7 linked regions of the Homo sapiens genome follow. The protein of the gene in region 6 binds, or shares a complex with, the protein of the main gene of each other region. Each region holds a gene or a part of one and is shown on either strand. Other genes may lie near its edges. The genes, in order: PRPF3, PPIL2, SNIP1, PPIH, LSM7, SNRNP200 and LSM4.

Region 1 (4,481 bases), on a different chromosome or scaffold from region 6:
CCAAAAGCTAAAAACAGCCTATATATATGATACATCACTTACAAATGCAGGAGCTTGGCCAGGTGCAGTGGCTCACGCCTGTAATCCCAGCACTTTGGGAGGCTAAGGTGGGCGGATCACCTGAGGTCAGGAGTTCGAGACCAGCCTGGCCAACATGGCAAAACCCTGTCTCTATCAAAAATACAAAAAGCAGATGGGCATGGTGGCACACACCTGTAGTCCCAGCTACTTGAGGGGCTGAGATTCAAGGAGAATTCAAGGAGAATCTCTTGAACCCGGGAGGTGGAGGTTGCAGTGAGCTGAGATCGTGCCACTGCACTCCAGCCTGGGTGACAGAGCGAGACTCCCTCTCAAAAAAAAAAAAAAAAAAAATAACAGGACCTTGTGTACAGTTACTTATCTCTCTTGGATTTAAAAATTTTAATTAATGAATGAGTACCATCCTTCCCACTAAAACCATAGCTTTACTAAAAGGTATTAACTTGAGTCTTAAACTCAGCTGATTAAAAACTGTTTTTTTAAAAAGGTACTAAAACAAACTCACAGATCAAAGCCATTGGGGATTATGTAAGAGTCCCACCACTCAATTTCAGGAATATCTCCTTCCTTTAGCTCCTTCTTAGGAGCAATGAGGGCAAGCCTAGTCGAAGTATGGATGCCTGTTTTTCGAGCTGCTTGTGAAATCTCTGCCTGTAGCTTCTCCAGTTGAGCCTAAAAACAAGATAATCCAAGACAGAAAGATAAATTGGAGTCATAGAAAACAGAATGTGTAGAATCTCAATTTTTTTTTTTTTTTGAGACGGAGTTTCGTTCTTCTTGCCCAGGCTGGAGTGCAATGGCATGGTCTTGGCTAACAGCAACCTCTACCTTCCAGGTTTAAGCGATTCTCCTGCCTAAGCCTCCTCAGTAGCTGGGATTACAGGCATGTGCCACCACCCTCAGCTAATTTTGTATTTTTAGTAGAGATGGGGTTTCTCCACGTTGCTCAGCCTGGTCTCAAACTCCCGACCTCAGGTGATCTGCCCGCCTCGGCCTCCCAAAGTGATGGGATTACAGGCATGAGCCACTGTGCCCGGCCAGAATCCCAAATATTTTTTTTTTTTTTTGTAGACGGAGTCTCACTCTGTCACCCAGGCTGCAGTGCAGTGCAGTGTAAGCTCCACCTCCCGGGTTCACGCCATTCTCCTGACTCAGCCTCCCGAGTAGCTGGGACTACAGGCGCCCATCACCACGCCCGGCTCATTTTTTTGTATTTTTAGTAGAGAAGTGGTTTCACCATGTTAGCCAGGATGGTCTCGATCTCCTGACCTAGTGATTCGCCCACCTCGGCCAAGAATCCCAAATTTTAAAACACTTCCCCGTTGAACTCTTTACACCTAACGCAACAAGTTCATAATTTCTGAAAGCTTAGAAAGGAGTTGTTCTGCTTTATTTTATCCTTTATTTAGTTCATATACATAGATCTCACCTTCAACCCCTCCCTGCACTCCACAGTATATGCCTGCAGTAAATACGCAGAAATAGAATTTTATGGCCGGGTGTGGTGGCTCACGCCTGTAATCCCAGCACTTTGAGAGGCCGAGGCGGGAGGATCATGAGGTCAGGAGATCGAGACCATCCTGGCTAACACGGTGAAACCCCGTCTCTACTAAAAATACAAAAAAATTAGCCGGGCGTGGTGGCGGGCGCCTATAGTCCCAGCTACTCAGCAGGCTGAGGCAGGAGAATGGCATGAACCTGGAAGGCGGAGCTTTCAGTGAGCTGAGATCGTGCCACTGCACTGCAGCCTGGGTGACAGAGCGAGACTCCGTCTCAAAAAAAAAAAAAAAAGGAATTTTATGAAAACCTCACTTTGAGAGGATAAAAAGGCGGCAAAGGTCATTCAATATACAATCAATTCAACTCTCCAGGTGTACTGTCTCATTAAATTTTAACTACAGGCAAGCCTTCCTTAGTCACTCAGAATGTTTCAAATTGTTTCCCTCCACTTAGTTGTATGTGGAGAATTTTCAAACTCAATTTCATAATATTTCCACTTATGTAGAAACGAATTAGGAAGTAAAATCTGCTAAAAAAATTATGTATTATATTAATAAATATATATATATATTTTTTGAGACGGAGTTTCGCTCTTTTGCCCATGCTGGAGTGCAGTGGTGCGATCTCAGCTCACTGCAACCTCTGCCTTCCAGTTTCAAGTGATTCTCCTGACTCAGCCTCCCAAGTAGCTAGGATTACAGGCACCCACCACCACGCTCGGTTAATTTTTGTACTTTTAGTAGAGACGGGGTTTCACCATGTTGGGCAGGCTGGTCTTGAACTCCTGACCTCGTGATCCACCCACCTCGGCCTCCCAAAGCGCTGGGATTACAGGCTTGAGCCATCTTGTCCAGCACATTTTTCAAAGTATTCATTGCTTTAAATCAGGGGTCCCCAACCCAACAGTCTTTTAGGAACTGGGCTGCACAACAGGAGGTGAGCAGCAGGCAAGCCAACAGTCTCATCTGTACTTACGATTGCTCCCTATTACCTGCATTATGGCCTGAGCTCCACCTCCTGTCAGATCATCGGTGGCATGAGATTCTCAGAGGAGCGCGAACCCTATTGTGAACTGTACATGTGAGGGGGCTATGTTGCACATTCCTTATGAGAATCTAATGCCTGATGATCTGTCACTGTCTCCCATCACACCCAAATGGGACCATTTCAGCAGGAAAACAAGCTCAAGGCTCCCAGTGATTTTATATTATGGTGAGTTATATAATTATTTCATCATATATTACAATAAAATAATAATAGAAATAGGCCAGCACAGTGGCTCACGCCTATAATCCCAGCACTTTGGGAGGTCAAGGCAGGCAGATCACAAGGTCAGGAGTTTAAGACCAGCCGGGCCAACATAGTGAAACCCTGTCTCTACTAAAAATACAAAAAATTCGTCAGGCATGGCGGCGCATGCCTGCAGTCCCAGCTACTCAGGAGGCTGAGGCAGGAGAATTGCTTGAACCCAGGAGGCAGAGGTTGCAGTGAGCTGAGACTGTACCACTGCACTCCAGCCCAGGTAACAGTGCAAGACTCCATCCCCCTCCCCGCCCAAAAAAAAAAAAGGCGGGGGCGGTGGCTCACGCCTGTAATCCCAGCACTTTGGGAGGACAAAGTGGGCAGATCACCTGAGGTCAGGAGTTCGAGACCAGCCTGACCAACACGGAGAAACCCCGTCTCCACCAAAAATACAAAATTAGCCAGGCGTGGTGGCACATGCCTGTGATCCCAGCTACTCGGGAGGCTGAGGCAGGAGAATCACTTGAACCTGGGAGGCAAAGGTTGCAGCAAGCCGAGATCGCCCCATTGCACTCCAGCCTGGGCAACAAGAGCGACACTCCATCTCGAAAAAAATAATAATAATAAAGTACACAATAAATGCTATGTGCTTGAACCATCACGAAACCATCCTTACTCCAGGGGAAAAATTATCTTCCATGAAACAAGTCCCTGGTGCCAAAAAGGTTGAGGACTGCTGCTTTAAATGACCTATTTATCTAATTTCCTAGAACACAGAGATTTAACAATGTTTTCTTGTCAGCTTCTTAACTTTTTCCAAATTCTGTGTTATACTCTAAGCCAGATACCTTTGTCCGTAATCGCTGAGCAATCTTCTCAAATTTGCCCTTGTCATGGAATTTAAAAGTGCGTCTCTGGCGCTGGGAAGGGGCAATGGAGACTCGGGGGTCAAAAAAGGTATTGGATTCCATGTCTTCTGATGGCTTTTCCTTTAGTTGTTGCTTGAATTGTTCCCTCTTCACAGCACGAATATTGGCTTTCAGAGTAGGCATGCGGTGTGTCAGCTCAATCTCCTTGCCTGTTGCATCTACAGTGCGCCCTTGCTCATCCAGGATCAGTGGTGTAGGTTTCGTTTGGTCTTTTAACTCCACCTTCCTGAAAAATAGCCCGCAAAGAAATAAATCCTGTATGGAACATTAAGGCAAGCAAAAAACAAAATAAAGCCAGGCGTGGTGGCTCAAGCCTGGAACCACAGCATTTTGGGAGGCCAAGGCAGAGGGATCACTTGAGCCCAGGAGTTAAAGACCAGTCTGGCCAACACAAGGAGACTGCATCTCAACAAAAAATTTAAAATTAGCTGGGTGCGGTGGCATATACCTGTGGTCCCACCTACTCAGGAGGTTGAGGAGGATCACTTGAGCCCAGGAAGTTGAGGCTGCAGTGCCTTCTCTATAAGAGTTATTTGGATGGACGGGTGTGGTGGCTCACACTGTAATCCCAGCACTTTGGGAGGCTGAGGCGGGTGGATGGCTTGAGCCCAGGAGTTCAAGACCAGCCTTGGCAACACAGTGAAACCCCATCTCTACAAAAAATACAAAATTTAGACGGGCACTTGTAGTCCCAGCTACTGAACCTGGGAGGCAGAGGTTGCAGGGAGCCGAGATCACTGCACTCCAGCCTGGGTGACAGAGTGAGACTCC
Region 2 (4,481 bases), on a different chromosome or scaffold from region 6:
CTGGTAGCGCAGCACATCCTCGTCGATGGCAGCTACAAGCCAAGGTCCCAGCTCAGCCCCTGCCCTCACCCTGGGGCAGCCCCACCATGCCAGGCAGCACCGACCTCAGACACACAGGCGGGGACTAGGCTCCAGCTCTGGGGAGAGCAGGGGAGCTGGAGGCCGAGGGTCTGCTTAGGCCACGCACAGGCTCACCCCAGCCTCATGGGGCTGGCAGGGGTTCAGCAGCTAAGAGGGGGAGGACTAGGGGCTCAGGTGACAGTGGGAGCCCCTGACAGACCAATAAAGTGGGAGTCGGGGAGCACACCCACCCCCTGCCACTTTTGGGTCACATGGCAGGTGGCTACAGAGGCCAAGGTGGCTACCTGCTTCATGTGTGGTCTCCGGGACCATCGCGGTGGAGGTGAAGGAAGCGCTGACCTTCCCTGTGGAATAGTGGGCCTGCCAAGGAAACCAGGGTGGCACCTCAGCAGTGCCATGGGAGGCAGTTGGGTGGGGACGTGTCGCTTGCCTAGAAGCCAACCACACGCCACCCCTGCCCCCCAGGCCCTGCTTGGTGCCTCTCCTCCAGGAGGGCCTCCCCAACCAGCAGGAGGAAGAAGCCAAGGCTAGGCCAAGCCAGGGTCCCCTGGCCTCCACTGGATCCCGACTCTTATGATATCAGGTGAAACCCTGGAGATAAAATACCACACAGGACTGGCCACCTCAGGGTTAGGAGTGTATGGCTGACTTCTCATTTATTTTTATTTTAATTTTTTTATGAGACAAGGTCTTGCTCTGTACCCAGGCTGGAGTGCAGTGGTGTGTGATCCTGGTGCACTGCAGCCTCCAACTCCTGGGCTCAAGTGACCCTCCGACCTCAGCCTCCTGAGTAGCTGGGACGACAGGCGCATGCCACCACGCCTGGCTGATTTTTTGTAGAGATAAGGTCTCACTATGTTGTCTAACCTAGTCTTGATCTCCTGGCCTCAAGCAATCCTCCTGCCTCAGCCTCCCAAAATGCTGGGATTACAGGTGTGAGCCACCACGCCTGGCCTCATTTCTTTTTAAAAGTTTCAAACTTTCTACACTAAACACATTACATATTTAATCAGGGGTCGGGGAAAAGCCCCAATAAATGTTATTTTTTATCATAGAGGAAGAAAAAGGGGTTTCTCCCATCAGAAGAAAATACAAGCCAGGCACAGTGGCTCACACCTGTAATTCCAGCACTTTCGGAGGCCAAGGCAGGAGGCTCTCACTTGAAGCCAGGAATTCAAGACCAGCTTAGACAACATAGCAAGATCCTGTTTCCAAAAGAAAAAAAAAAGTAATATATCAAAGTGCTAAGGGCAGTGTGTTAGACGGAGTGACACACTGGACAACAAGCTTTCTTTTTCAAATTTTCCAGAATTTGAATAATTCTTTAAGAAGGAGAACTTCAGAGCTACCTGCCCATGTCTCTGCCCTCCCCCTAGCTCCAGATCCCCATGCTCTGCCTGACAGGAGGAAGAAGCAAACACGACAGCCCCAGACAGGTGGCACCGTGCAGTCCCAGGCATGCCATCCACGTCAGCACCGCAGCAGACCATGAAACGCCCCAACTCTCCCTGGCATGGCTTTGGGCCCCAGTGCACATCGGGCCCTGCCCTCCCAGCCACCACAGAACCACATGTGCCCGCTCAACGTGCCTGCCCTGGCTACTGAGCTCAGGCTGGGACCACAGCACAAGGCAGACCTTCTGTGGCAGGGATCTCCCCTACATGCCCCCACACACCCCTTGGTTCTTCAACGACCAGTGTGGACATCAGCCCCTCCCCTTCTGCCTTCTCAGATTCTATCTGCCTCAGGGCAGCCCCAGGGCTGTGCACTCAGAGCCATCAGGGGCACCACAGCTCTGGGGGATCCTGGCTGCCTCCCTGCCGTGTATCCCAGGCCCCCATGAGCCCCTTTCCCAGGACCACTCCAAGAGGCCATGAGATGGGCAGGAAGACGGGGCTTGGGCTTGGCCGAGTGCCCTCCGCCACTCACAGCGTTCAGCTTGTCCACTTTCTTCTTCTCCGGGGCCTTCATGGTGGCTGCCAGAATCTCGTCCCCTTTGAACTCCTTGTAGAGCTCCTGCAGGGTCTCTCGGGTCTCGGCATTTGTATTTTTCAGATAATAAGACGGGTCCTGTTTGGCCTTCTCTTCATCTACAAAACAGTAGCATGGCCCTGAGCCGCCGAGCCCCCAGTAGCCTCCCCACACACGTGCTGGGGACACAGATCTAGAATAGCCCAGGGCCGTCCAGCCATGGCGCAGGCACCGTGCCACTGCCAGCCACAGAATGCCACAGTGCCCCGCTACAGGCCTGAAGGTCTCCCCAGGCAGTTCACAAGGGTCTCAGGATGGACTTCAGGTTGATTTGTATATTTTATATTTATCTGTATATTCTAATCTTTTTAGAGTATACGCTTTGCTTTTTTTTTCTTTTTTTTTTTTTTTTTTTTTGTGGAGATGGAGTCTCGCTCTATCGTCCAGGCTGGAGTGCAGTGGTGCAATCTCGGCTCACTGCAAGTTCTGCCTCCCAGGTTCACGCCATTCTCCTGCCTCAGCCTCCTGAGTAGCTGGGACTACAGGCGCCCGCCACCACGCCCGGCTAATTTTTTTGTGTTACAATCTTGTAACCTCGTGATCCGCCTGCCTCAGCCTCCCAAAGTGCTGGGATTACAGGCGTGACCCACCGCGCCCAGCCTTTTGAGACAGGGTCTAGCTCTGTCGCCCCAGCTAGAAAGCGGTTGCAAGATCTCAGCTCACTGTAGCCTCCACCTCCTGGGCTCAATCGATTCTCCTGCCTCAGCCCCCCAAGTAGCTGGGGCTACAGGCGCACCAACTACACCCAGCTAATTTTTCTATTTTTTGTAGAGACAGGGTGTCCCCATGTTGCCCAGGCTGGTCTCGAACTCTTGAGCTCAAGCAATCCGCCTGCCTTGGCCTCCCAAAGTGCTGGGGTTACAGGCATAAGCCACCACACCCAGTTGCTTTGCTTCTGTAATTTTAAAGGTTATTTTTATTTAAAATAATAGAAGTGTTTGGGGGTCTTTCCAGATGTGAAATCACCCATTCTTGCCGACTCAGGAGGGTGCCTGCTGCCTACTGGGCCTTGGACAGCAGCCCACCCTGTGGAGAGGGGCCGGCATCCCTGTGCAGAGAGCACAGACACGGCCCAGCCCCAACCCTGACCTCAGGCTCTCCTGACTCAAATCTTCCCCAGTTCACGTGCTCAGCCTACCTAAAACCCGTTCAAACAATGCTCACAAAGTGCCCAGGCCACTGCTCTGCAGCACAAGGCCGAGTGACCTCTGAACATGAGTCCTGCTGGCTCCTCCAAGGCTGCAGGACAGCCACCAGAGGCCAGGGAAACAGGAGGACCCCATCACCCCACCACCTGCCCACTGACAGCACCGGCCAGTCTGCAGGGAGCAGGGGAACCTGAGCAGGTGTGCTGGCAGGGCAGCAAGTCTATCCCGCCCATTGTTTCTGAGGCTGCAGTTGGCTCAGATTCTCTGAACACTAGTTCAGAAAATGCAGGGCCTGTCTGGGCTGGGACCCCCTGACCTCCAGGAAAGCGGGGGCTTTACCCAGGGAGCACTGTCCCAATTTCATCCAAAAGCCCCCTCGCCTAGCCCAGCCCCTAGGTGTACATACCTGGGTCTATTATTTTCATGTTATTCTTCACATGATAGAAGTTAGAGACATTGAACTTGTCCAAATTGGTGGGGTCCTGTGGCAAAAAGAGAATGCCCAGCAGAGTGAACCCAGCCTACGGCCAAATGGCAGCCACATGCAGCAAAGGACGGCCAGCTGTCAGAGGTGTGGAAGAGGCCAGGGCTACACTGAGGTTGGGGGAGTCAAGCAGGGCATGAGGGAGGAGGTGGTCTGCCCCAGGCAGGGCAGCAAACAGGGGCAGGGGCAGGGACGGGGACGCAGCCTCGCTAGCTGCTGGCTGAGCTGTGACCTTCCTCCAGGCACATGGCTAACGAGCATTCATTGCTGTTAGGGAGCTATCGGACCGGAACGTGGGCAGCCGTGGGCCGACCTCTGGTTAGAATGGGACAAGCCACAGAGGTGATTGACTCAGCAGGCCACGCTCCAGCCAGCACCTGCTTTTCTAAGTCAGTGTTTTTCATTAATTCACTTGGGGTTCTCTGACACCTGCAGGGACCCTGTGCCAGATACAGGGTCTTTGCAGAGCTCATGCCAGCTCCTGCCCTCGAGGCGCTGAAGCAGAGCCAGGCCTGCAGAGTGGCTATTCAGATGCCTCAGGTGGCTTTGAGGACAGATATGAGGGGCCCTGACGTGGGGGTAGGGCCCTGTAGAGGCCTGGGCTGGCTGCAGGTGCTGAAGGCAGCTGGGGCAGGCAGGCAGGGGACACTCACCTGGAGGGTGATGATGTCCTGCCGGGAGAAGGGCTCGTCGGTCAGCAGGTCCCGGAAGTTCTTGGCCTTGATATTTAGCTGTTC
Region 3 (4,481 bases), on a different chromosome or scaffold from region 6:
CTTGAGGTCAGGAGTTTGAGACCAGCCTGGCCAACATGGTGAAACCCCGTCTCTACTAAAAATACAAAAATTAGCCGGGCATGGTGGCACGTGCCTGTAATCCTAGCTACTGGGGAGGTTGAGGCACGAGAATCGCTTGAACCCAGGAGGCAAAGATTGCAGTGAGCCAAGATCACACTACTGCACTCTAGCCTGGGCAACAGAGCAACACTTCACCAAACAAACAACAACAACAACCAAAAAAAAACACAAAATGGTGGTTCAGAGGTTGAGAAAAGAATAAAGTAATCATTTGGTATCCTCAGGAGATTGGTTCCAGGATCCCCAGTGGATAAAAAAGATTATCTCAGGGCCAGGTGCAGTGACTCATGCCTGTAATCCCAGCACTTTGGGAGGCCAAGGCAGGTGGATTACGAGGTCAGGAGATGGAGACCATCCTGGCTAACATAGTGAAACCCTGTCTCTACTAAAAAAAAAATACAAAAAAATTAGCCAGGCATGGTGGCGGGCGCCTGTAGTCCCAGCTACTCAGGAGGCTGAGGCAGGAGAATGGCGTGAACCCCGGGAGGCGGAGCTTGCAGTAAGCCGAGATCGCACCACTGCACTCCAGCCTGGGCAACGCAGCGAGACTCCATATCAAAAAAAAAAAAAAAAAAAAAAAGATATCTTAGGATGCTCAAGTTCCTTATATAAAAATCTGTGAATATCCTTCTGTATACTTTAAATCATCACTAGGTTATTTATAATACCTAATACAACGTAAATGCTATATAAATAGTTGTTATACTGTTATTTGTCTTTTAAAATTTGCTTTTTTTTTTAAAACAGTCTTGCTCTGTCACCCAGGCTGGAGTGCAGTGGTGCGATCTTGGCTCACTGTAATCCCCGCCTCCCAGGTTCAAGTGATTCTCCTGCCTCAGCCTCCCAAGTAGCTGGGATTACACGCGCCCACCACCACACCCAGCTAATTTTTGTATTTTTAGTAGAGACGAAGTTTCACCATGTTGGCCAGGCTGGTCTCCTGACCTCAGGTGATCCACCCGCCTCGGCCTCCCAAAGTGCTGGGATTACAGGCATGAGCCACTGTGATCGGCCCAGACTCTAATCCCAGTTACTTGGGAGGCTGAGGCAGGAGAATCCCTTGAACCCAGGAGGCGGAGGCTGCAGTGAGCAGAGATTGCGCCACTCCAGCCTGGGCAACAGAACGAGACTCCGTCTCAAAAAAAAAAGAAAAAAAAAAAAAAAAGACGACTGAATTCTCATCCCTCAAAATTGAGAATAAGGCAAGAGTGTCTGCTCTCATTACTCTTTTATCTCTCCTTGCCTGACGCCATCCGTGTGATTTGCTCCTCCTTGCTTCCCACCATGATTGTGAGGCCTCTCCAGCCATGTGGAACTGTAAGTCCATTAAACCTCTTTCTTTTGTAAATCGCCGGGTCTCGGGTATGTCTTTATCAACAGCATGAAAACGGACTAATGCAAACAACAAAAGGAAATAAAATGCATTCAGATTGTAAAGGAAGAAATAAAACTGTCCCTATTTGTAGATATGATTGTCTACGTAGAAAATCCCAAGTAATCTTAAAAAAAAAAAAAAACTAGAATACATTAGTTCAGCAAGGATATAGGATGAAGATAAACACACAAAAATGAATTATATTTCTATATAGTAACAATGAACATTTGGACACTCATTTAAAATACCCTTTATAATCATTCCACAAAGAAATATGTATAGGATTTATAAGCTGAAAACTACAACCACTGATAAAAGATATCAAAGATGATCTAAATAAAAGGGGAGATACACAATGTTCATGGATTAGAAGATTTAACATAGTAAAAAGTCAATTATTGCCCCCAAACGCCAGTTTAACACAAATCCTATCAAAATCCTAGCAAGACTTTTCTTTCAGATCTCACTCTGTCGCCCAGGCTGGAGTGCAGTGGTATGATCACTGTTCACCGCAGCCTCAACCTCCTAGGCTCAAGTAATCCTCCCACTCAGGAGCTACTCAGCCTCCTGAGTAGCTGGGACCACAGGCATGCCACCACGCCCAACTAATTTTTGTATTTTTTGTACAGATGGGTTTCACCATGTTGCCCAGGCTGGTCTGGAGCTCCTGAGCTCAAGTGATCTGCCCACCTCAGCCTCCCAAAGTGTTGGGATTACAGGCATGAGTCGCTGTGACCGGCCCAGACTTTTTAAAAATAGAGGCAAGATTGTTCTAAAACTTACATGGATGAAAAAAGAAGCTGAATAGCTAAAGCAATTTTTATAAAGAAGACTACAATGGGAAAAATCAGTCCATACAATTTCAAGACTTATTATATAGCTATAGTAATCAAGACTGTGTGGTATTGGCAGAGTGACAGACACTGACAAATGAAACAGAACAGAGATTCCAGAAATAGACCCACACAAATATGCCCAACTGATTTTTGACAAAAGAGCAAAAGTAATTCATTGGAGGAAAGATGGTCTTTTCAACAAATGGTGTTGATGCAAGTGGACATTCATAGGCAAAAAAAACAAAAACAAAACAAAACAAAACAAAACAAAACAAAAACCCTGAAACCCTGAAAAGAAACTGAAAGCAGATCATGGACTTTTAAGAAAAAAAATTTAGGAGAAAATTTCAGAGATCTAGGGCTAGGCAAAAAGTTCTTAGCCATGACATCAAAAGCACAATCCATAAAAGGAAAAACAGATAAGCTGGACTTCATTGAAATTAAAAACTTTTGCTCTGAGATAAACCCTGTTAAGAAAATGAAGACAGCTACAGACTGGGAAAAAATATTTGTAAACCATTTATCCCCAAAGGGCTAGTATCCACAATATAAAAAGAATTCTTAAACACTAAACAGTAAAAAAGCAAATAATAGTATTAGAAAACAGGCAAAAGATAGCTGGGCATGGTGGCTCACTTTGCTGTAATCCCAGCACTTTGGGAGGCTGAGGCAGGTGAATCACCAGAGGTCAGGAGTTCAGGACCAGCCTGGTCAAAATGACGAAACCCCATCTCTACTAAAAATACAAAAATTAGCTGGGCATGGTGGCACGAGCCTGTAATCTCAGCTACTTGGGAGGCTGAGGCAGGAGAATCCCTTGAACCTGGGAGGCTGAGGTTGCAATGAGCTGAGATCGCGCCATTACACTCCAGCCTGGGCAACAAGAGTGAAACTCCGTCTCAAAAAATAAAAAATAAAAAATAAAAAATAAACAGGCAAAAGACATGAGACATTGCACCTGAGAAGATACATATAGATGGCAAATAAGCACATGAAAAGACGTCCAAGGCCAGGTGCAGTGGCTCACGCTTGTAATCCCAGCACTTCGGGAGGCCGAGGCAGGCAGATCACGAGGTCAGAAGTTTGAGACCAGCCTGGCCAACATAGTGAAACCCTTTCTGTACTAAAAATACAAAAAATTAGCTGGGCGTGGTGGTGGGCATCTGTAATCCCAGCTACTCAGGAGGCTGAGGCAGGAGAATCACTTGAACCTGGGAAGGGGAGATTGCAGTGAGCCAAGATCACGCCATTGCACTCCAGCCTGGGTGACACACACACACACACACACACACACACACACTGACACACAAAGAAAAGATGTCCAATATCATAAGCCATTAGGAAAATGCAAATTACGGGAAGCTGAGGCAGGAGAATCGTTTGAACTCAGAAGGCGGAGGTCGCAGTGAGCCGAGATCGTGCCACTGCACTCCAGCCTGGGTGACAGAGCCAGACTCTGTCTCAAAAAAAAAAAAAAAAGGAAAACGCAAATTAAAATCACAATGAAATACCACTACACGCCTATCAGAATGGCTAAAATAAAGTGATAACTTGAAATGCTGATAAAGATACAGGGAAACCGGATCATTCATACATTGCTGGTGGGAATATAAAATGATACAGCCACTATTACGGACTAAATTGTACCCTCCAAAATTAGCATGTTAAAGTACCAAACCCAAGTACCTCAGAATGTATTAATAACTTTTTGGAGATGAGGTCTTTAAAGAGCTGGTTAAGTTAAAATGAGGGTAGGGCCCTAATCCAATATGGCTGAGAAAAGACAACAGGACAGAAGAAAGATCATTTGAGGATATAGCAAAGAGGTAGCCATCTGCAATCCAAGGACAGAGGATTTTTTTTCAGGAGATTCCAAACCTGCTAACACCCTAATTTTTGACTTTTAGCCCCATAACTACAAGAAAATGAATTTCTGTTGTTTAAGCCACCTACTCTATGGTATTTCATTATGGTGGCCCTAGGTAAACTAATACAGCCACTCTGGAAAACAGTCTGGCAATTTCTTAAAAGAATTAAACCTGCAACTACCGTACAATCCAGCAATTGTACTCCTGAGCATTTATCCCAGAGAAATGAACTCTTAACGTTCACATAAAAACCTGTACACAAATGTCTATATAGCAGCTTTATGTGTAATAGCCAAAAAATGGAAACAACCCAGATGTTCT
Region 4 (4,481 bases), on a different chromosome or scaffold from region 6:
AAAAGAAAACCTCCCAAAATTAGATGGGCAAGGCAAAGGCCCTGATGGACATACATCAAACTAATAAGGAAGTGACCTTTGGAAAGGGGAGTGGAATTGCAGGTGGGTATTGTCAAGAGGGGCTTTCACTTTATCTGTTTGGTGTGAAAGTTTTCACAATGAGAGTGTATTATGTTACTTGTGTAAACCAAATGAAATGAAATATGGGAACCTTGATTGGATCACCTTTTTTTAAGCTACAAAAGTTACTTTTGGGACAATTGGGGAGGTTTGAAAATGTACTATATATTAGATAATATTGTGGTTACGTAGGATGTTCTTATTTTTAGGAGTTCCTTGCTGAAATACTTAGGGGTAAAGTGTCAAGAAGTCTGCAACTTTCAAATGGGAAAGAGAAGAAGAAAGGGTAAAGGAAGGAAGATGGGAAGAAAGGAAGGAAAGGATGGAGGGAGGGAAGAGGAGCAGGAGGGAGGAGGAGAGGCAATGGAAATGGGTGAGGAGGCAAGAAGGGAAAGAAAAAAACAAATGTCAAGGCAAAGCAATAAAACAAGAATGTTAATCATTGGTGAATCTAAGTGAAGATATATTGGTGTTCAAGGTATTATCTTCTAACTTTTTTGCAGGTTTGAAAATAAAAAAAAAAGAAAAACAAAACATCACTACCCCTCACCTGGCTGGAAGTGATGGATTTCTCCCTTGTACTCTTCTCATACTTGGCAATGTCACTCATATTACTAGTGATCACCTCTGGGAATGTCTTACTTTCCATGAGCTCCTGAAAGGAGACATCTTTCAATTCTTTGTCCCCCTCTCTGCAGCTAGCATGCTGCCCAGCGCAGAGCAGGCAGTGGTAATTACGGGTAAGAAATGAGTCCATGTAGGCTGGAAGATGCAAGGCATTCACCTATGAGGCCAGCGAATATGAAGTCGAGGCCTGGAATTGCAGTATCAGTTCTGATGAGAGGCATGACAGGTGTGTCTCCTGGCTGCCTGGCCTGGTCCCAGCAGAGAGTTACTCAGGCCTGGAGCCAGGTCTTTCTAGGGGGACTACTGAATGGAACTGTAGTCTGAGAGTGCTGTTACAAACTGCCTGAGTAGTTTTCACATTGATACTTTGTACATTACAAAGTGATAGAAAAGTAAAGTGCTCCTACAACCCTTTCTCTTTTTATTTTTACAGTGACTCTGAGAGATAGGTATTACAGTATTTCCATTTGACAGATGAGGAAATGTGCTCAGAGAAGGAAAGTGACTACTCCAAGGCCATACACGGAGGAACTGGGCTCAATCTCATGTCTTCAAGACTAAAGTTCTTTCCACTAGACCATGCTGCCTTCTCTGAGGTCTGATTCCTAACCTAATAGGAGAAAGACACACTTACCTGATTCAGTCTTTGTCTGGACTACATCTCCCCACACTGCGAGATCACCACAGGTAGCTTGGGCTTATTGTTGGGGCCTGTGGGAACATTCTAGGAAAAAAAGCACAATGGAGATTCATCCACTCAGGCACTTCCTCGTTCCCTTATCAAACTTTTACTGATGCCTGCCAGCCCTGTGCTAAGGACTCAGCACTCAGAAACAGTCCATGTCCTGGCAGACAGGTAAAGCATATAATACCTATCAAAGAGAAAATGCAAAACACTTAGAAAATATCAAACTTATGATTATATAAGAAAAAGTTATAAGAGAGAATTGGATAAGGGTTAGATAGGCAACTAAATTGGGGCTTAAAGAGGTCAGGGAAGGATTCACAAAAGAGGGGTATTTGAACTGTGCCTAGAAGGATGAATGGGATTCCATCAGGAGGGAAGGAAAGAAGAGCATTCCGGCTAGAGGAAACTGTGTGAGCAAAGGCTCAGGGGCAGGAAAGAGCAAGCAGCAGGGACATGCATGGCAGATTTAGAGAAGAGCTAGTAGCCTGATGTGACTGGAACATGGAAGAGGCAATGGCAGAAGAAGGGGCCATGGAGAGGTAGACAGGGACTAATCATGAAGGACCTTGAACGCAATGCTGAGGAGTAGAATTTTATCAAGTAGGCAACAGGATCATCAGAGGCCAAACCTCAGTGTTGGCCAGACAGGCTAACTTAGGTGGTTCTCTTCCCTTTTCCTGGGGCAATGAAGACAGCCTAACAAACTGGAGCTCATTCCCCCTTCTCTAGCTCCTGCACGCTAGTCAGACAGTACCAGACCACAATGGCAGAGAAACAGAAAAATCAAAGCAGTACTTACCTCAATCTTTCTCATCACTAGAAGTCCATCGATGATTTTTCCTGTAGGAAGAGCATGAGCTGGACTTTATTCTTGTTTACATAGCATTTTCCAGCTTCCAAAGCCCATTCTTAGCTATTTTCTCATTAAACCCTCATACTAACTTTAGGAAATTAAGATGCGGTAGAGGTGAAATGACTTGCTCAAGGTCATAGGTAATAAGTAGAGTTAGGGCTCAAACTTATACCTGAGTGACTCCAAAGTCTCACCGTATCATGCTGCCTCTATGGCATTTCTTTGGTGCTAGCAACTGGGTTTTCTCCCTAAGTGGTTCCATACTATATCAAATGGTCCTTTTGTCCTTCCCTCTAGTTCTCTAGCCACACATGTTCCCCACCTCCCCACCATTTCTGTTTTCTCTATTACCACCTAAGCAGTTACACAGGTTGAGCTTTCTTGGTAAGAGTTTGAGAACTAACTCCTCTGGAGGTTCCATCCAGGGTGAATGGGGCCTGGACCATGAGACAGGAGTAGGACTTACCAAACACCACATGCTTCCCATCCAGCCAATCGCACTTAGAGCAGGTGATAAAGAACTGACAGCCATTTGTACTTGGACCACTGTTCGCCTGATGGAAACCAAATATACCTGCAGTAAGTTTCCCCGGCCATGTTAGCTGAAGGGCAAGATTTCCAAAAGAGCTTGTAACACTGATTCCTCTATGGTTTTTTTCAGTAAATCTAACTTAGCACCTATTATGAGCCAGGGCCTAAGCTAGGATCCAAGGATACAGAGATGAACAGGATATGGCTCACTGCAGCCTCAAACTCCTGGGCTCAAGCAATCCTCCCCACCTCAGCCTCCCTAGTAGATGGGACTACAGGTGTGTGTCACCACACCTGGCTAATTTTTTTTTTCTTTTTTAAGTAGAGACTAAGTCTCACTATGTTGCCCAGATTGTTCAAACTCCTGACCTCAACCTCAAGCAATCCTCTTGCTTCGGCCTCCCCAAAGTGCTGGGATTACAGGTGTGAGCCACCACACCCAGCTATGAATATGTCTTGAAAGCACAACTGTTTACATTCTGAGCAGTAGGGCTGAATGCCCAGACACAAATCCTGGTTCAGATTTTAGTTCCCCAGCCTGCTAGCCTGCTAGTGGGCCTTACCTACTGGTTTTCTTTTCTTTCTTTTCTTTGTTTTAAGATGGAGTTTCGCTCTTGTTGCCCAGGCTGGAGTGCAGTGGGGCAATCTCAGCTCACTGCAACTTCCCCGTCCTGGGTTCAAGCGATTCTCCTGCCTCAGCCTCCCGAGTAGATGGGATTACAGGCACCCACCACCACACCTGGCTAATTTTTTGTATTTTTAGTAGAGATGGGGTTTCACCATGTTGGCCAGGCTGGTCTCGAACTGCTGACCTCAGGTTATCCACCTGCCTCAGCCTCCCAAAGTGCTGGGATTACAGGCGTGAGCCAGCATACCTACTGGTTTTCTCAGTCAAACCAGACTAAGAAAGGAGGTGGTAAAGGTGAGTCCTGGGCCAAGCAAGAGAAGGAAAGCATTTGCTTCCATCCCAAGAGACAGCACTGGGCCTCAAGAGGGGCCCAGGAACCAGCTGGCTATAACCCAAAACCTTGATTGGACCTCACTTACCATGGAAAGCAGGCCTGGAGCTGAGTGTCTAAGTTTAAAATTTTCATCTGCAAATGGCCCCCGGTAAATACTGGCGACTCCAGTACCATCTCCCTGAGCAGAGAGAAGGGAAGTATTAGTGACTTGGAGTGTTGGGTCCCTGGAAACCGGAGGAAGAACACTGTCGCACCTAAAGCATGACATCTTTAAAGTCTACTCTTACTCTTGTTGGTCATCTTGGAAGCTGCACCTATTTGACCCCACCCTGCAATCAGATCAAGCCTTATATAAGGTACCTACAGCCCACAAAGACTGGCTGGAGCATTTTATAGACTGGATAAAAGAGGTCACAGCTGGGCCTCTAGAACGATCAATTAAGATGCAGACAAAGTAGGGAACAGCAACAAGGTGATCACATACTCAATCCTTGCCATTCCTGAAGACTCTCATGCCTTCAGTCACATAAAAGTACCCACTTAAGTGACTACCACCCCATTCCCCTAAACTATCTAAGAGGGTGGGTGAGCTCTTGGCAGTCTGTATGTACAACATGATACCACCCTCCTGGTCATAGTTGATTGATCTAGGGAAGGATGCCTAACTCACTCTGGGCCAACTAGAGTTCCTTCTCTGGGA
Region 5 (3,264 bases), on a different chromosome or scaffold from region 6:
TTGTGGGGCCTGGAGAGACGGGAGCTGCCAGCTCACCCACTGGTCTCTACACACTGACGGGGCGCCCGGCACAGTTAGAGGACAACCTTTTTAAATGTTTTATTATTTTAATTTTTGTTAAATTGGTGACGTGAGAGGCCAGGCACAATGGCTCACACCTATAATCCCAGCGCTTTGGGAGGCCAAGGCAGGAGGATCTCTTGAGGTCAGGAGTTTGAGACCAGCCTGACCAACATGGTGAAACCCCGTCTCCGCTAAAAATGCAAAAAAATTGCTGGGTGTGGTGGCGCATGCCTGTAATCCCAGCTGCTCGGGAGGCTGACGCAGGAGAATCGCTTGAACCTGGGAGGCGGAGGTTGCAGTGAGCCGAGATGGTGCAACTGCACTCCAGCCTGAGTAACAGAGTGAGACTCCGTCTCAAAAAAAAGAGATAAGCTGAGGTCTCACTGTGTTGCCCGGGCTGGTCTCGAACTCCTGGGCTCAAGCCATCCTCCTGCTTCAGCCTCCCACAGTGCTGGGGTTCCAGGCGTGAGCTGTGGCGCCCAGCGGAGAGCAGCCTTGCTGTGGGGTAGTGAGCGTGCCGTGGGGCTCCTCTCGGGCGCCTTTCCTCTTCTGCCCTTGTTAATTCCCGCTATGAACGCAGGGTCCCTGTCTCCTCCCCAGAGGACCCTCCCTCATTTCCCTGCCCCCGCTCGCTCCCCTCCCCAGTGAGGCCGCCAAGTCCTCAGACTCTCCCCCAGAAGCTCCTGCGGCAAGTCCCCAGCTGGCAAGTCCCCATCCCGGCCCGGGCACTGGGGGAATGTCAGGACTTAGGAGAGAGAGGGTCTTGCCCCTTGGATCCATTGATACTGAGACAAGATTTATTCTTGTAGCTGGCCATGGTGGCTCATGCCTGTAATCCCAGCACTTTGGGAGGCCAAGACAGGAGGATCACTCGAGCCCAGGAATTTGAGACCAGCCTGGGCAACATAGTGAGACCCTGTCTCTACAAAAAAAAAAAAAATGTAATTAGCCAGGCATGGCGGTACATGTGCCTGTGGCCCCAGCTACTCAGGAGGCTAAGGCAGGAGGATTGTTTGAGCCCAGGAGGTTGAGGCTGTGAGCTGTGATTGCACTGCTGCACTCCAACCTGAGCAACAGAGCAAGACCTGGTGTCTGAAAAAAAGTTTAAAAACCTGGGCCCCATGGTTCTCCCATGCCCCCACCACTGCAGGACCACAGTAGTGAGGAGTTTTAATCGCCTTCAGCCTCTTGAGAGCTTGTCTTGGGCTTGCTGGCACTTCCCTGGGGTGCCAGCCCACATGGTCCCCACCCCACATGAACAGCCTCTTTATTTTTTTATTTTTTGAGATGGAATCTCGCTCTGTCACCCAGGCTGGAGTGCAGTGGCGCGATCTCGGCTCACTGCAAGCTCCGCCTCCTGGGTTCACACCATTCTCCTGCCTCAGCCTCCCGAGTAGCTGGGACTCCAAGTGCCTGCCACCACGCCCGGCTAATTTTTTTGTATTTTTTAGTAGAGACGGGGTTTCACCAAGTTAGCCAGGATGGTCTCGATCTCCTGACCTCGTGATCCGCCTGCCTTGGCCTCCCAAAGTGCTGGGATTACAGGCGTGAGCCACCGCGCCCGGCCCCCAGCCTCTTTGTTATAGGGTGAATATTGGCCCCCTAGGGCTCCAGGGACCTTGCAGAGACCAGGAGGCCCAGGGTGCCTGTATTCTGGCCGGCCATCTGATAACCTGGTTCCCGGCCCTGGTGCCTGGGCCCCAGTGAGCTCTGAGACGCGGGGTAGCCGGCTATCACCTGGGCCTTCTTGTTCCCATGGTTTGTGGAGTGAGGGAGGGCTGTGGCTGCTGTCTGTGGAGCTGCCACTGGTCTCTAGGGGCCATGGGTCTCAGCCGTGGGAGCCGGGGACCTGCCCCACAGAGCGCATCCCGTCTGAGGTCCCTGCGTGCTCGTGGCGCCTGCAGGGTGCAGGTGGGGAGGTCGGAGCGAGGGTCTTGGGTGGGTGGGGGGTCTCGGAGGCTTCCTGGAGGTCCCTCAGTCCTCTCTATCTGCTCCTCCCCAGACCCTGACGACCAGTACAAGCTCACGGAGGACACCCGGCAGCTGGGCCTCGTGGTGTGCCGGGGCACGTCCGTGGTGCTAATCTGCCCGCAGGACGGCATGGAGGCCATCCCCAACCCCTTCATCCAGCAGCAGGACGCCTAGCCTGGCCGGGGGCGCGGGGGGTGCAGGGCAGGCCCGAGCAGCTCGGTTTCCCGCGGACTTGGCTGCTGCTCCCACCGCAGTACCGCCTCCTGGAACGGAAGCATTTTCCTTTTTGTATAGGTTGAATTTTTGTTTTCTTAATAAAATTGCAAACCTCAATGTGTCTGAGCCCCGAATCTTGCTTTTCCCTTGACCTTCTGAGGAAACCTGGATTCCTGGAGATTGGACTCAGTCCCTGGAGCTCATCAAATACCAGCCATGGTCCCTCCTGGGGGTGAGGGTTCAGGAGTGACCAAGGCGGGCACAGCCAAGGCCGAGACAGGCGAGTTTGGAACCTCAGTCTGATGAGGGGCTTGTGGAACCCCAGGCCCGCCCCCAAGACAGCAGGAGCTGGGGTGCATCAGGAGCCGGGATGCATCAGGAGGCTGGGGTATATCAGGAGGCCGGGGTGCATCAGGAGGCCGGGGTGCGTCAGGAGCCGGGGTGCATTAGGAGGCTGGGGTGCATTAGGAGGCTGGGTGTGTCAGGAGCTGGGTGTGTCAGGACCTGGGGTGAATCAGGAGCCGGGGTGCATCAGGAGGCTGGGGTGCATCAGGAGCCGGGGTGCATCAAGAGGCCAGACCCCACAGCCCATGCAGCTAACACCTGCCCCCGCTGCTGCCCCCGCTTGTGAGATGGACTGGTCACCTACAGCCAGCCCCTTCTGGGTTCCTTCCGTGCTCACAGCATGTCCTGAGGTCGGGTGCAGTGGCTCTCGCCTGGAATCCCAGCACTTTGGGAGGGTGAAGTAGGAGGATCTCTTTGAGCCCCGGAGTTCAAGACCAGCCTGGGAAAATAGGGAGACCTCGTCTCTACAAAAAATATATATATTTTTTCCTTTGAGACAGTCCTCACTCTCACTCAGACTGGAGTGCAGTGGCGTGATCTCGGCTCACTGCAAACTCCGCCTTCCTGGTTCAAGTGATTCTCCTGCCTCAGCCTCCCAAGTAGCTGGGATTACAGGCACCCGCCACCATGCCCAGCTAATTTCTGTATTAGTAGAGATGAGGTTTTGCC
Region 6 (4,481 bases):
ACCAGCAGCGTGGAGCTACCTCATAGCAATGTGTTAGCTCTCATTCATGTTAGACCTTGTTCCTAGCCAGCCTTGCTGTGAGTTCTGAAACATAGCACAGGGTAAGCCACGGCCTGCCCATGAGGCAGTGAGCCTACTTCACCCGGAGACCCCTGCCCTCAGCCTTCCTCTCCCCTCTACTGCTCAGGGGCTATCCAGGTGGTGGTGGCTTCTCGGAGTCTCTGCTGGGGCATGAACGTGGCTGCCCACCTGGTAATCATCATGGATACCCAGTACTACAATGGCAAGATCCACGCGTGAGTACAACTGGTGCTCTGTGTTAGCACAGACCTCCTTCCTAAAATGAATGTGAATCTGCAGATACACAGAAAGTAAGCTAGGATGAAGAAAAGGTGTTAGGGAAGTTAACAGCTGAGATGCCACCAGAGCCAAGTGTTTGAGAGTTTTGTGTCTCAATACCTAGGCTCACATTTGCTTTTTAGTCATTGTGCTTCCTTATTCAGCAGCTGGGAGAGGTAGGAAATTAGAGCCAGGAGGAATGTTTGACGTTACGTCATTAATCTCAGACATCTTGTAGATTAGGAAAAGTGACTTGGTCGAGGTCATACACCTATATAGTGACAAGTAAGAAGCTAGAGGAGTGCCGAGCGCAGTGGCTCATGCCTGTAATCCCAGCACTTTGGGAGGCTGAGGCGGGCGGATCACTTGAGGTCAGGAGTTCAAGACCAGTGTGGCTAACATAGTGAAACCCCCGTCTCTACTAAAAATAACAAAAATTAGCTGAGTGTGGTGGCAGGCGCCTGTAATCCCAGCTACTTGGGAAGCTGAGGCAGGAGAATCAGTTAAACCTGGGAGGCAGAGGCTACAGTGAGCTGAGATCCCACCATTGCACTCTAGCCTGGGCAACAGAGTGAGACTCCAACTCAAAAAAAAAAAAAAAAAAAAAGCCTGGGTGTGGTGGCTCACACCTGTAATCCCAGCACTTTGGGAGGGCAAGGTGGGCAGATCACCTGATGTCAGGAGTTCAAGACCAGCCTGGCCAACATGACAAAACCCCGTCTCTACAAAAATTAGCCAGGTTTGATGGCAGGTGCCTGTTATTCAAGCCACTCACCTGTAATTCAAGCCACTTGGGAGGCTGAGGTTGGAGAATCACTTGAACCCAGGAGGCAGAGGTTGCAGTGAGCCAAGATCGCGCCATTGCACTCCAGTCTGGGCAACAGAGTGGTACCCCGTCTCAAAAAAAAAAAAAAAAAAAAAAGGGCCAGGTGTGGTGGCTCATGCCTGTAATCCCAGCACTTTGGGAGGCCAAGGCGGGTGGATCACAAGGTCAGGAGTTCGAGACCAGTCTGGCCAATGTGGTGAAACCCTGTTTCTACTAAATATACAAAAATTAGCCTGGTGTGGTGGCACGCGCCTGTAATCCCAGCTACCTGGGAGGCTGAGGCAGGAGAATCGCTGGAACCCAGGAGGCGGAGGTTGCAGTGAGCCGAGATAGCACCACTGCACTCCAGCCTGAGCAACAGAGCGAGACTCCATCTCAAAAAAAAAGAAGTTAGAAGAGTCAGTCATTCTCATAAAAAAGCCTGCATAATTTGTTGTTGTTTTTTTTTTAAGACAATCTTGTTCTGTCGTTTAGGCTGGAATGCGGTGGTATGATCTCAGCCCACTACAGCCTCTGCCTGCCAGGCTCAAGCAATCATCCTGCCTCAGTCTCCCAAGTAGCTGGGACTACCAGCATGTGCCACCACTCCCAGCTAATTTTTCCTTTTTTTTGTATAGATGGGTTTTCACCATGTTGCCCAGGCTGGTCTTGAATTCCTGAGCTCAAGTGATCCACCCACCTCAGCCTCCCAAAGTGCTGGGATTACAGGTGTGAGTTATAGTGCCTGGCCCAACGCTTAATAACTTTTTCCTGAAATGCAGATTAGTTTGAAATGAATTTTATTTACGGGTTCATTTTTAATGTTTGAACCTGCTTCTAGGTAGGGTTAAAGTTGGGTGACTTGATGACTCACGAAATACACAACTATGAAGTTTGGAAAGTGTGGTGGTATGCACCTGTAGTCCCACCTGCTCTGGAGGCTAAAGTGAGAGGATCACTTGAGCCTAGGAGGTAAAGGCTGCAGTGAGCCGTGGCTGTGCCACTGCACTCCAGTATGGACAGCAGAGCAAGACCCTGTATCAAAAAACAAATAAAAACAATAATAATTTTTTTTAATTAAAGGAGAAAAGTTTGGGAAGTTTGACTTACATATTTGATCCTCGAATAGGGAGTTATTTTGGTTTTGGCATTAGATAGTTTTGTAGCTTGGTTCATGGCACTTGAGCAGCAAATTCATGGCCCTTACACTGAATACTAAAATGTTATACAGGCCAGCCAGTGAAGCTAGTTGTAAGTGCAGAGATTCATAAACAGAGTCGTCCCGTGATTTGTCCGTGTCTCCCCGTATTAACATTTTACTCTTACTTGGCGAAGGGAGTTGGGCTTCCTGAGCATGGTCTCCGTGTTGAGGTGGCTTTTCCTTCTTTCCCTGCTTCTGTCACCAGCTATGTGGATTACCCCATCTATGACGTGCTTCAGATGGTGGGCCACGCCAACCGCCCTTTGCAGGACGATGAGGGGCGCTGTGTCATCATGTGTCAGGGCTCCAAGAAGGTCAGTCCTAGACTCATGGAGCCTCTTGGATCCGTAGCCTCAGAATGGATTCTTTAATCTTTCTTTTGATAGATGTCTTCAGTAACTTTAGTCTCTTAACTTCTGCCTCTCTTATTTACACAATTCTTTTGTGACGAGCCTGCCACCCACATGGAATTTTGCTGCCTTTTGCTTTTGCTGCTGCCGTTGGCTCCACGTGTTGAGGTCTTCACCCTCTACTTGGTTCTCTCCTTCCTCCTTGGGCTGCTCACTGCTCTGCCCTCGTGACTTGCTGTACCTCTGTTCCCACTGCGTATTGTCACCAGTGATGCACTTTCTAAATGTGTGGCTTCTTCCATTTTGGTATTAGTTAGGTCTCACACAGGGACCATGCCCTGTTGATTTGCCCTTGGCCCTCTGTGACCGTGTTGTCACTAATTCTTTATTACTCCTTCTCCCTCTCCAACCCACAGGATTTCTTCAAGAAGTTCTTATATGAGCCATTGCCAGTAGAATCTCACCTGGACCACTGTATGCATGACCACTTCAATGCTGAGATCGTCACCAAGACCATTGAGAACAAGCAGGATGCTGTGGACTACCTCACCTGGACCTTTCTGTACCGCCGCATGACACAGAACCCCAATTACTACAACCTGCAGGGTCAGTGGGCTTGGGAGCACACGTGATCCTTTGGTGGTTCTCACAGTCTTTGCTGGGCATCTTCTTGAGGCTCCCCACTCACCTCTCGCCTCCATAGGCATCTCCCATCGTCACTTGTCGGACCACTTGTCAGAGCTGGTGGAGCAGACCCTGAGTGACCTGGAGCAGTCCAAGTGCATCAGCATCGAGGACGAGATGGACGTGGCGCCTCTGAACCTAGGCATGATCGCCGCCTACTATTACATCAACTACACCACCATTGGTGAGGCCCGGCATGGCCCGTGTCCTGTCTGTGGGAGCCTTTTTACACGGGTCAGGAGCCCACTGGGATGAGAGGTGCGCCCGTGTTTGTCAGCGGGATGACACTGCAGGGGACAGCAGGGGAGCCCGGGCAGTTCTGCTCCTTCTCTGCCTGGTTTTAGCTTCTCTCACATTTCCTTTTTCTGTCAGAGCTCTTCAGCATGTCCCTCAATGCCAAGACCAAGGTGCGAGGGCTTATCGAGATCATCTCCAATGCAGCAGAGTATGAGAACATTCCCATCCGGCACCATGAAGACAATCTCCTGAGGCAGGTGAGGACAGCAGACTTCAGGAGAGCATCCTGGGAACAACAAACTCGGCCTGTGTGCCCAGAGCACATGGCATCCCTGCCACCAACACGCCCATACGCATCCCCCGACCCCCGCCATATGTCCTCCCGCTCCATACCTCCCTCAAACCCATCTCCATCCCATTACCACCCACATGCCTCAGGGTGTTGAAGGGCTGTGTGAGCCTGGGCCACGTGGTGCTTTGGCCTGAGCTGGTCTCAGGCAGGGTCACCTGTTCATCACCAGCTATTTTTCTTCCACTTTGTAGTTGGCTCAGAAGGTCCCCCACAAGCTGAATAACCCTAAGTTCAATGATCCGCACGTCAAGACCAACCTGCTCCTGCAGGCTCACTTGTCTCGCATGCAGCTGAGTGCTGAGTTGCAGTCAGATACGGAGGAAATCCTTAGTAAGGTAGAGTGTGGGTGTGGGGCAGAGGGGTCAGTGGTGCTCTAAACATCTCAGCTCCAACTCCGCCCACTTTTATACTCCTTTTCCTGTTCAGGCAATCCGGCTCATCCAGGCCTGCGTGGATGTCCTTTCCAGCAATGGGTGGCTCAGCCCTGCTCTGGCAGCTATGGAACTGGCCCAG
Region 7 (4,481 bases), on a different chromosome or scaffold from region 6:
CCCCAGAGCTCCTGGATTTGATCCACGCCTCGTGACACACACAACCCCTGGGAGGAAGGAGCCCAGGCCCCTTGGAGAGCCCCAGAGGCCTCTAAGGGCCGGTGAGTCTAGGACATGGGGCAGGAGCTGCAAATGGGGCCTCCCTGCTCCCCACCCTTCCTTCCCTCCTCCTCTAAACATTGCCCCACCCACCTCGCCCTGTGAGCCCAGCCCCCTGCACGGCCCACACTGTAGGGGCATGGGGTGTGCCAAGAGATGCTCCTGTCGACCAGGCGCAGTGGCTCATGCCTGTAATCCCAGCACTTTGGGAGGCCAAGGCGGGAGGATCACTTGAGATCAGGAGTTCAAGACCAGCCTCGCCAACATGGTGGAACTGTGTCTGTACTAAAAATACAAAAATTAGCCGTCTGTGTTGGTGCACACCTGTAATCCCAGCTACTCAGGAGGCTAAGGCAAGAGAATCGCTTGAACACACGAGGCAGAGGTTGCAGTGAGCCAAGATTGTGCCACTGCACTCCAGCCTGGGCAACAGAGCGAGACTCCGTCTCAAAAAAAAAAAAAAAATGCTCTTGTCCAACAGGCAGGTGGGTGCCGTGGGCCGGTGCATCCCAAGGCTTCCAGGCCCGGGCCCCCAACTGCTGCCCCTGCCTGTGTTGAGGGGGCGGGTTTGTGAGGTTCAGGGCAGGCCACATCCTGGACCCCACATGCCCCATCTCTAACCATCAATCAAGTGCCGCTGTGGCGGAGAGGATTCAGGCGACTGCAGATATCCATCCCTGTCCCCCACCCCACACACAAGGAGAACATCCCAGGCGAGGACATTGTAAATGCAAAATCTATACGATGGCAAGTAACTCTGAAGACTCAAGAAAAAGAGTTCCTCACGGACGGGACCTTTTATTCCAATCACCTCTCAAAATAGGTCTCCGAACGAGGACCCTGAAGAGAAGGCTATGCAGGGGGACGGGCCGCTGCCTGGCTCAGGGCTTCCCTCTGGTTTCTTCACGGTCCACAGATGCTACCCGGAGCCTTTCTCGAAAGCGCTGACTCAGTGTCTCAGGTGCGCGCCCGAGGAGTGGCAAACCCGGCCTGGCTCAGAAAGGGGGCAGGAGCCTCGTGAGAATCTTCCATGAGCATCTTCCGAGGGGATTCCTGTCCTGTCTTCTCTGTGTGAACGCCAGTGTGGACAGATGAGGATAGATGATGGAGTCCAGGCCACCCAGGAGGGGGTGATGGGGACCATGCGTGGCCCCTGCCTGGGACTTCCCTCCCCACACACCCCTTGGCATTAACGTCTCCACAGAGGGGAGAGGGTTATAGGACAACCTGGTGTGGGGGGCGCCGGGGACTCTCAAGAGCCCCCACTGTCCAGATGCTGGTCTTGCCTTTTGTAAAAGGACATCAGTGCCTCACTGTGCCGCTGACACCTGGTGAGAACTCTCAAAAGGAAGCTTCCCTTACGGGAACGGGGATTTCCTGAGAGTCCAGCGATGGACAGAGGGCAGGAGACCCGCTAGGTGCACCCAGAAGCTCAAAAGGAACAGTGGATGTGCAGTGTGTAGTTTTATTTGTTTTTATTTCCATAACACAAGAGAGGAAGCGAAGGGCCAGGGCCCGAGGCATCCCCTGCACGGTTCGAAGGCTTTCAACCGTCCCGGGTTTGTTTTGAAGGCAATTTTGGGGCCGCGCCCAAGGAAACCCTGCAGGCTGTCAGTCCCAGCATGAACAGCTTAAAATAAAAATCTCCCGTCTGGTTGCTGCTCGGAGAGGCTCCAAGAAATGCAAAACAAACCCGCCTGGAAAATGCTGCCCTGAGAACCAGAGCGAGGGCTTGAAAGATGCCTTCAACACAGACTCTTCTAGGAATCCAGCCAGTTTTGGGACGGCCGTTTCACAAAACCAAAAAACACCAAGTAACATTTCTAACCGGAGAATTGCCGGTTTTAGCAAGAAAAAGGGGCTTCACCTAAAAGGGAGGGTCACAAAACACGAAGGGGGTTCCCCCTGGCGCCTGCCTCTTCCTTTCTGAGCAGATCCGTCCGAGACTGTGGAGCGGAATCGCCACCCTGGCAGGAGGGGGCGCAGCAGCCGGTCTGGGTGGGCGCTCACTGTTTGCCCGCCTGTCTGCCAGGCTTCTTCTCTGGCTGGCCTCTGCCTGTGCCCGGGATCCCACCTCGGCCCCGGCCACCAAACACACCTAGAGGACAGAGAGAGGGCGCTGCAGCAGAGCCAGGTGGGTGGGACCTTCGACAGGATCCCGGCGCCCTGAAACTCTAGGCCAGGTCACCTAAGTCTCCAGCCTCAGCTTCCTCATGTGTGAGGTGGTGACTGAGGGTGCTTGGATCTCCTCCGTGGGGCAGAGCATCTGAGGAAGGCAGGAACTCCAGGGCATCCTCATTATGGGACTAGACCCAGCCCCCAGGGATGCGGGGGGGGGGGACTAGGCGACAGAGGACACTAAGTCACATTGGGGGTTGGGGCAGGCTTCCTAAAGGACAAAGCCAGAAGGGTTTCCTGGAGGAGGAGGAGGAGGTAGGAGAGGCGTGGAGCAGAGACCAGGGCAGTAGGCCAGGCTGGGGGCTCCCTGGCGGGGGGGGGGCCTCCTATGCGCCACAACCACCCACAGCCCCTCATCTACCTGCCAGGAGGAAAACAGAAAGAGGGATTTCTGTGTATCCAGCCCCAGGGATGGGGAAGGGGAGGGGACTCCCCAGCAGGCCTGAGGCCAGAGATAGACCATGAGGACAAATGACATTTTCCATGAAGCCCCTGAGGTGGGAGCATGTGGCCACTGGGGAGGTGACAGGGGGTTCCCGGGAGATGAGGGCCCCAGGGACTGAGTGGACGCTACAGCGGCACCTCCAGTAATCCTGAGCAGGCTGCACGCAGGGCACGCCTGTCCCCACACCCTCTGTGTGCCTGGCGCCCCTTCACGCCACCCTCACCACAGGCCAGGCCTGGACGCAGCAGGTTGGTCAGGCCGGGACCCAACATTGATCCCTCCCTCTCTGTCTCCCTTGGGGACCCCAGCTCTGTAAGCCCCGTTTAGGGAGCCGTTTCAGAGAACTTTCTAGCTGGACGAACGCTTGAGGAAATCAAAGCTGGAGCTTCAAACAGCAGGAGAGCCAAGGCCAGCAAGAGGAGCTGGCCCTGTGGCCCATGTGCTGGGTGCCAGGGGCCAGAGGCCAGCGCTGCAGGCAGCATAGCTCAGGCCCTCCACAGAGCCCGCTGGGAGGCTCAGTCGTGGGCCAGGGAGGTCTGGGGACAGGAGGACTGACCCCAACAGGAACTGGAATCACGGTCTACTCTGCAGACCTCAACCCCGTGAAGGTGGGGTCAGGGGTCCAGATTCAGAGGATCTAAGAGGTCAGGGCTCTCACCAGCCAGGGGCCACCAGGCCCTGTGGGGACAGAGGCCAGAGGCCAACGCTGGCCTGGGCCACCAACCTCCCCTCTCACCAGGCAGGACCAGCTGTGCTAGGGTGCACAGCCTGGTGGGGGTTACTGCGAGGCTGCTATCTGCACTCCATGGCCCAGTGGCTTCCTGCAGAGCAGCCAGAGAAAACCCCCCACTTCCCTAGGTAGGACCCGACCCACTCTCTCAACAACCTTGACCCCAACTACTGGGAAGGAGCCAGGCCGGGGACCCCAGAGGCCCCACCCACCCTGAGATCCCCAAAGCTCCCTGCCTGGAGTACTATCCCTGCCCCTCCCTCGGGCTCACTCCTGACCACCTCGTGAGCCTGCACAGAATTGGCGCCTGGGGCCTTCCGGGGGCAGCCATGCCGTGCTGCAAGCCCCCAGGCTGGCACCTGAGCCCAGCACACAGGCAGTGCCCATGGATGGCAGAAGCAAAGCCCAGGTCCCCCCGAGAACACAGAGCTGGGGACAGAGAGGTGAGGAAGGGCAGGGGCTACAGATGGCCCCTGGGCCTAACAAATGGAATTTTATGCCAATTCATCATCTCCGGTGGGGGCGGGCGACCTTGGCTCTGGATAGAGCCACGCCAGGTTCCAAGTGGAGTTGCCAGCGGCCTGGACAGATGGGCACCACCATACCCTCTCAGAGGGGAAACTGAGGCTTGGGGAGGTGACTTGATGTGCCCTGAGGACCGCCAGGAGGCGCAGTGAGAGGAGGGCTGAGTCCCAGGTCTCGGGGCTCCTCTGCCTGGGCCTCGGCTCATGGCCAAGGACCAGGAGGGGGGCCCGGGAGGGTTGGGAGGCTCCGAGGCAGCGCTGCAAGGGCAACCCCAAGAAGGAGGGATGCCACGTGTGGCTGTCTTCCCGCCCCAGGTACGTCCACTGGAGAGGGGAGACCCACCTCGGCCAGCGCCGCCCATGCCGCGGCCTTTCTGCTGCTTCTGCTGCTGCAGGCCTCCGCGGCCGCGGCCCTTGGCCACCACCTCCTCCTTGACCATGTCGATGATCTCGTCGGGGATGCGCAGGTACTTGATGGTGCTGCCGCGGATGTAGCACTCGGGCA

What was found.
Region 1: SNRNP200 (region 6) and PRPF3 share a complex: the UniProt entries of both Homo sapiens proteins name them as parts of the U4/U6-U5 tri-snRNP complex.
Region 2: SNRNP200 (region 6) and PPIL2 share a complex: the UniProt entries of both Homo sapiens proteins name them as parts of the minor spliceosome.
Region 3: SNRNP200 (region 6) and SNIP1 share a complex: the UniProt entries of both Homo sapiens proteins name them as parts of the minor spliceosome.
Region 4: SNRNP200 (region 6) and PPIH share a complex: the UniProt entries of both Homo sapiens proteins name them as parts of the U4/U6-U5 tri-snRNP complex.
Region 5: SNRNP200 (region 6) and LSM7 share a complex: the UniProt entries of both Homo sapiens proteins name them as parts of the U4/U6-U5 tri-snRNP complex.
Region 7: SNRNP200 (region 6) and LSM4 share a complex: the UniProt entries of both Homo sapiens proteins name them as parts of the U4/U6-U5 tri-snRNP complex.

What each region holds. Positions count from the first base shown.
Region 1 is NC_000001.11:150,334,390-150,338,870, reverse strand, and holds part of PRPF3 (U4/U6 small nuclear ribonucleoprotein Prp3), read right to left. Parts: intron 3,937-4,481; coding exon 3,630-3,936; intron 712-3,629; coding exon 545-711; intron 1-544. UniProt on the Homo sapiens protein: Plays a role in pre-mRNA splicing as component of the U4/U6-U5 tri-snRNP complex that is involved in spliceosome assembly, and as component of the precatalytic spliceosome (spliceosome B complex).
Region 2 is NC_000022.11:21,682,443-21,686,923, reverse strand, and holds part of PPIL2 (RING-type E3 ubiquitin-protein ligase PPIL2), read right to left. Parts: coding exon 4,398-4,481; intron 3,743-4,397; coding exon 3,667-3,742; intron 2,172-3,666; coding exon 2,011-2,171; intron 442-2,010; coding exon 366-441; intron 33-365; coding exon 1-32. UniProt on the Homo sapiens protein: Has a ubiquitin-protein ligase activity acting as an E3 ubiquitin protein ligase or as an ubiquitin-ubiquitin ligase promoting elongation of ubiquitin chains on substrates.
Region 3 is NC_000001.11:37,547,515-37,551,995, forward strand, and holds part of SNIP1 (smad nuclear-interacting protein 1), read right to left. Parts: intron 1-4,481. UniProt on the Homo sapiens protein: Required for pre-mRNA splicing as component of the spliceosome. As a component of the minor spliceosome, involved in the splicing of U12-type introns in pre-mRNAs. Down-regulates NF-kappa-B signaling by competing with RELA for CREBBP/EP300 binding.
Region 4 is NC_000001.11:42,664,341-42,668,821, reverse strand, and holds part of PPIH (peptidyl-prolyl cis-trans isomerase H), read right to left. Parts: intron 3,960-4,481; coding exon 3,867-3,959; intron 2,843-3,866; coding exon 2,755-2,842; intron 2,276-2,754; coding exon 2,235-2,275; intron 1,472-2,234; coding exon 1,403-1,471; 3' UTR 1,382-1,402; intron 776-1,381; exon of another isoform or gene 671-775; intron 1-670. UniProt on the Homo sapiens protein: PPIase that catalyzes the cis-trans isomerization of proline imidic peptide bonds in oligopeptides and may therefore assist protein folding. Participates in pre-mRNA splicing.
Region 5 is NC_000019.10:2,320,624-2,323,887, reverse strand, and holds the end of LSM7 (U6 snRNA-associated Sm-like protein LSm7), read left to right. Parts: intron 1-2,065; coding exon 2,066-2,208; 3' UTR 2,209-2,367; downstream 2,368-3,264. UniProt on the Homo sapiens protein: Plays a role in pre-mRNA splicing as component of the U4/U6-U5 tri-snRNP complex that is involved in spliceosome assembly, and as component of the precatalytic spliceosome (spliceosome B complex).
Region 6 is NC_000002.12:96,277,629-96,282,109, reverse strand, and holds part of SNRNP200 (U5 small nuclear ribonucleoprotein 200 kDa helicase), read left to right. Parts: intron 1-187; coding exon 188-296; intron 297-2,550; coding exon 2,551-2,659; intron 2,660-3,111; coding exon 3,112-3,301; intron 3,302-3,398; coding exon 3,399-3,563; intron 3,564-3,751; coding exon 3,752-3,873; intron 3,874-4,159; coding exon 4,160-4,303; intron 4,304-4,394; coding exon 4,395-4,481. UniProt on the Homo sapiens protein: Catalyzes the ATP-dependent unwinding of U4/U6 RNA duplices, an essential step in the assembly of a catalytically active spliceosome. Plays a role in pre-mRNA splicing as a core component of precatalytic, catalytic and postcatalytic spliceosomal complexes.
Region 7 is NC_000019.10:18,305,359-18,309,839, forward strand, and holds the end of LSM4 (U6 snRNA-associated Sm-like protein LSm4), read right to left. Parts: coding exon 4,320-4,481; intron 2,198-4,319; coding exon 2,106-2,197; 3' UTR 878-2,105; downstream 1-877. UniProt on the Homo sapiens protein: Plays a role in pre-mRNA splicing as component of the U4/U6-U5 tri-snRNP complex that is involved in spliceosome assembly, and as component of the precatalytic spliceosome (spliceosome B complex).